2 separate regions of the Homo sapiens genome follow, and region 1 is linked to region 2. Evidence: fine-mapped expression QTL. A gene starts in region 2. The other region holds a variant in brackets. All regions are shown on one strand. Distances are between the middles of the regions. Region 1 overlaps FANCA (FA complementation group A). Region 2 holds the start of FANCA (FA complementation group A).

Evidence for each region. PIP is the estimated chance that this variant, and not a neighbour inherited with it, causes the effect.
Region 1: its variant is fine-mapped to the expression of FANCA in whole blood (TOPMed, PIP above 0.99).

What each region holds. Positions count from the first base shown.
Region 1 is chr16:89,760,352-89,762,851 of GRCh38, reverse strand. FANCA (FA complementation group A) reads left to right here. Exons shown (of 43, transcript NM_000135.4): 29 at 830-903. Among named protein-coding and RNA genes, the nearest start is that of ZNF276, 40 kb to the right of the region's middle. The variant A/T (reference allele first, on the strand shown) is at 1,382.
Region 2 is chr16:89,815,513-89,818,449 of GRCh38, reverse strand. FANCA (FA complementation group A) reads left to right here and starts at 1,803. Exons shown (of 43, transcript NM_000135.4): 1 at 1,803-1,913; 2 at 2,464-2,573. The coding sequence starts at 1,835. RefSeq lists enhancers at 1,140-1,189, 1,575-1,869 and silencers at 1,730-2,019, 2,250-2,299.

The DNA.
Region 1 (2,500 bases), 55 kb after region 2:
GGATTACAGGCATGAGCCACCGTGCTCGGCCTCCTAAAAATGTTTTTAAAAAACTTAGCTGGTCATGGTGATGTGCACCTGCAGTCCCAGCCATCTGAGAGGCTGAGGGGGAGAATTCTGGAGTTCAGGAGGCAGAGTCTGCAGCGAGCTACGATTGCACCACTGCACACACTCCAGCCTGGGCAACAGAACCTGTTTCCAAAAATAAATGAAGGTATGCTACTGTGAATAGCTGTAGAATGTTGTTGTTTTGTTAGTTTCTTTTTTCTTTTTTTTTTTTTTCCTTTTTATAGATAGTTCTCACTCTGTTACTCACTGCAGCCTTGACCTCCTGGGCTCAAGAGATCCTCCTGCCTCAGCCTCCCAAGAGGCTGGGACCACACACATGTGCCACCACACCTGGCTGATTTTTAAATCTTTTGTAGAGACGGGGTGTCACCATGTTGCCTAGGCTGGTGTCAAACTCCTAGGCTCAAGCAATCTGCTGGCCTCAGCCTCCCAAAGTGCTGGGATTACAGGCATGAGCCACCGTGCCCAGGTAATTTTTAAATGAGATGAGGTCTTACTATGTTGCCCAGACTAAAATAGCCGTTTTATACTTAGAAAGAAGGATTACAGTACTAACATCTTTGTGCTAGGGAAATCCTGTAAGAAATCATTCTTGATAAAACTAAGGTTTCTTTCCTGTGGAACTCTCAGCTGCAATTTCATTATAACACAGGGACATGGAGGACTGCGTATGAGATGAAATGACAAACTGGTTTATAAACCTGTCGGTGGATTGTGTGTTCTGTCCTCATTGTATTGAATTGCTTGCTCTCTTTCTCAGTTAACTTACCAAGACTGGTTACACCTGGAGCTGGAAATTCAACCTGAAGCTGATGCTCTTTCAGATACTGAACGGTAAGTGTTGAAAAGAGCTACCCTGGCCAGGCATGATGGCTCACACCTATAATCCCAGCACTTTGGGAGGCTGAGGCAGGAGATCTCTTGAATCCAGGAGTTTGAGGTCAGCCTGGGCAACATGGGGAAACTCCATTTCTACAAAAAATAGAAAAGAAATTAGCCGGACATGCGGCACGTTCCAGTCATCACAGCCACTTGGGAAGCTGAGCAGGAGCATTGCTTGAGCCTGGGAGGTAGAGGCTGCAGCGAGCTGAGATCACACCACTGCACTTTAGCCTGTGCAACGGAGTGAGACCCTATCTCAAAAGAAAAAGGAGCTTCCCTTTAAAATGTTACACGGTTTTCCACATTGCCTTAAAGCCTATGTTTCGTCATTTTATCCTCAATTTAATGTTTGGTTTACCTGTTAATCTTTGAGCACAATTTCAATTTTTTTTTTTTCGGTGGCAAGATTTATTAAAGCAAAAGCGAAAGT[A/T]AAGCTTCCACGCGGTGGCAATTTCTGTTTTTCTTTTTTTTTTTTTTTTTCTGAGACAGAGTCTTGCTCTGTCACCCAGGCTGGAATGCAGTGGCGCGATCTCGGCTCACTGCAACCTCCACCTCCCGGGTTCACGCCATTCTCCTGGCTCAGCCTCCCGAGTAGCTGGGACTACAGGCGCCCGCCACCATACCCAGCTAATTTTTTGTATTTTTGGTAGAGACGGGGTTTCACCGTGTTAACCAGGGTGGTCTCAATCTCCTGACCTCGTGATCCACTTGCCTTGGCCTCCCAAAGTGCTGGCATTACAGGCGTGAGCCACCGCGCCTGGCCAGGTTGCCCAATTTCGGTTGTTATTCCTTTATTTAAGAAACATTTACTGAGCTCCTACCATGTGGCAGACAATTCTAGAGTGTTCTAGAAGCAGGGAGTATAGAGGGGAATAAACAAGCCTGCCCATATGGCACCTTTGTATCAATGAGGGCAGATGTGGCACGTATAAGGCACCCACTTAGACTTCACCCTACCCTGGCTGGGCTATGGCTGCTGTCCGGGAGCTGTACACCTGTGTCCAGGCCCTGGCAACACACAGGTAGATACAGAAGTGGATTAAAGGTAGGAATGAGCCCTGGAGATAACAGACAGGGCCGTGTGAGAGGAAATGACCAGGCAGGAGCAGAGGCTGGTGTGGAGCAGGTGGTGCAGACTTTGAGGAGTGATGCCAGCCTTGACTTGGGGGCACCAAGAAGTGGGTAAATGAAGCAGTGAACCCCCATGAGTCCCAGGGCTGATGACTGAGACCATTTGAGACTATTTGAGAGGCCAGATGTGCTGTTCTGGGCATAGGAGTAGGGAGCCCAGAGGACCGTTGGGTTTAAGGGTGTGGAGTTTAGGGTGGAGGTCAGGGAGAGGGGAATGTGGTCACTGCAGATATGGAGTATCCTGGTGGGTATATGGGCCTCAGGGTGCCTGCCACACCTAGACTCAGGAGAGGGTTGGCAACAGCCACCCTGTGCTCCTCGTCCTTCCGGCCATCAGGGGCCTTCCAGGCACATGCAGCACTGTCGCCTGCACCTGGATCCTGGTATCAGATTCTGGATGAAACCAATGGAAGTAATA
Region 2 (2,937 bases):
CAGGCAGGGGCTCATATTTATCAAGTTTTGTGTGTGCTCTGAGCTCAGGTCTTTCATTATTTTGGGAAAATTATTGGTAATTTTCTCTTCAAACATTTTTTATGATTTGTTCTTTCTTCTTCTTTTGGGAGTCCTATTACATGCATATGATATCATTTGATATTTTCCCACAGTTCTTGGATGCTTTTTTTAAAAAAAAACTTTTTTTCTTCTTTATTTTCCAACGTGGGTAATTCCTATTTTTCTCAGCTGTGTTGATCCTACTGCTGCCCCATCAGAAAAATTACCTGTTATCAGCGTTCTTCCTTTCTTATAATTTGATGAGTTTCCTCCTCATGCATATTGTTCACCTTTCGTACAAGAGACCTCCACATATTAATCACAGTTAATTTAAATTTCCAGCCTGTTTCAATTTCTCGATCACCTCTGAGTCTAGTCCTGTTAATTGCTTAGTGTTATTTTTTGTTTTTGAAACAGGGTCTTGCTCTGTTGCCCAGGCTGGAGTGCAGCGGCGCGATCTCAGGCTGTTCCCTGAGTTCACACCATCCCCCTCAACCAGCAGATTGCAAAGTGTCCGAGTCGGGCCGTGCAGGAGTCTTTGTGGGGGTTTCATGGACTCCGAATTCTCATTTCTGCTCCATCCCCATCTCATGAATCCAAGGCCCCACTCTGTGCCTCGGCTCTTCGTTTGTGGTGCTGAACGTCATCTACGTCATCTACGCCATCTACGTAATCAACACAATAAAGACGCCTGCCGGGAACGCGGCCCTTCGGCTGAATCCCTTCGGTGGTTCCAAGGCCACTGCCAGAGGATGCGGACGGGTCTCCAGGGCCTCTACTTACCCAGGACTTTGAGGCACATTAGCTTCGCCTAGGCACTCGCTTTTACGAATTCTTATGTTTGGTTTTGTTTTGAGACAGAGTCTCGCTCTGCCGCCCAGGCTGGTTAAAAGATAGGGTCTCAGCCGGGTGCGGTGGCTCACGCCTGTAATCCCAGCACTTTGGGAGGCCGAGGCGGGCGGATCACCTGAGGTCCGGAGTTCGAGACTAGCCTGGGCCAACATGGCGAAACGCTGTCTCTACTAAAAATAACAAAAATCATCCAGGCGTGGTGGCGCGCACCTGCAATCCCAGCTACTCGGGAGGCTGAGGCAGGAGAATCACCTGAACCCAGGAGGCAGACGTTGCAGTGAGCCGAGATCGCGCCACTGCACTCCAGCCTGGGCGACAGAGGGAGACTCCGTCTCAAAAAAAGGAAAAAAAAAAAAAAGAAAAGAAACAAAAGTGATGGGGTCTCGCTCTGTTGCCCAGGCTAGTCTGGAATTCCTGGGCTCAAGCGACCCTCCAGCCTCGGCCTCCCAAAGCGCTGGGAATACAGGCGCGGCTACCGCGCGGTCTCCGGCTGCCGAAACACCGCCCTGCGCGCGGACCGTTCGGCCGCCGGGAGGAACAGCGGCTGCCCGGAGCTCAGAGGCGCGCGCGGCTTTGCGCTCCCCGCGGCGCTCTGAGCCTGCCTCGGCTTGGTTGGCCAGGTGGTCTCTTCAGGACCAACCCCAGTCATTCCCGGCAGGAACCACGCTTGAGGGGCGGCAGTCTGCCCGCGCGAGACGCCCCCGCGGACTACACCGCGGCGGCAAAGCCAAACGCAAAAACTACCTCACCGCGCGCAGGCGCCTCCCCCAGGACCAACATGGCCACGACGCAAGGCCTCGACCTGAGGGGCGTGGCCTGGCCGCCGCCAGCCAACGGGTGTGCGCGCCTGGCCGCAGCCAATAGGAAGGCAGCGCGGGCTCGGGCGCAGGGAGCCGCCGCCGGGGCTGTAGGCGCCAAGGCCATGTCCGACTCGTGGGTCCCGAACTCCGCCTCGGGCCAGGACCCAGGGGGCCGCCGGAGGGCCTGGGCCGAGCTGCTGGGTAGGTGGGCGCGGCAGGCCGCGGGAGTGGGCGGCGTCCGGCCCGGGACGGTTTCGCCGGTTCCCCGATCCCTTCCCGCCAGAGCCTCCGCCGGTCGGATCCCCGGACGCCGCGCCCGGGGGGCTGTGCGGGGTGGGCGCCCGGCTGGGGCGGCGCGGCTGCCTCGGACCCGGCCCCTCCTGCGCCTGGGCGGACGCCCCCAGCCGCCGCCCGCGGGGCGCTCCCTTCTTTCCCGAACGCCGCCCCCGCCGGCCGCCCTGTCAGGCGGGCCTGGGGTGCGCGGCCTGGGGCTCCCCTCAGCGCAGAGGCCGCCCCTCGCCAGCCGTCCCCGGGCTCCCCTGCCTCGGGCCCTCCTGGGCCGTCTTCCCCGGCGTCCGCGGTGGGGCCGTCTCCGTTAGTTTCCCGAGACCTGCGCCCTGGGGAGGAGCCCCGGCCCCTCTTCGGGAGGGTGTCGCTGGTGGGTTTCTCCGCGGCGTCCACCTGCGCGTCGGGCCGGGGACCCCGTGTGTGAATTGTGCTGTGATGGTTTCGAACCGACTTCTCTCCGTAGCGGGAAGGGTCAAGAGGGAAAAATATAATCCTGAAAGGGCACAGAAATTAAAGGAATCAGCTGTGCGCCTCCTGCGAAGCCATCAGGACCTGAATGCCCTTTTGCTTGAGGTAAGAGGAAGCTGGTGTCCGTCTGCGGGCAGATTTAGGTTCGGGGTTTTTGAGTCCAGCCACCGCACAGCTTTCCTAAGAAAACACCCGAGGCGGCGGGCGCGGTGGCCTGGCCCGCAGAGGGGAGGGTCGCCTGAGCCCGGGAGTTCTGGACCAACCTGGGCAACGGGGTGAGACCCCGCCTCTTTTATTAAAAACAAAACAACAACAACAAAAAAACAGGCCGGGCGCCGTGGCTCAGGGCTGTAATCCCAGCTTTTGGGGAGGCCAAGGCGGGTGGATCACTCAGGGTCAGGAGTTCGAGACCAGCCTGGCCAACATAGTGAAACCCGGTCTCTACTGAAAATACAAAAATTAGCTGGGT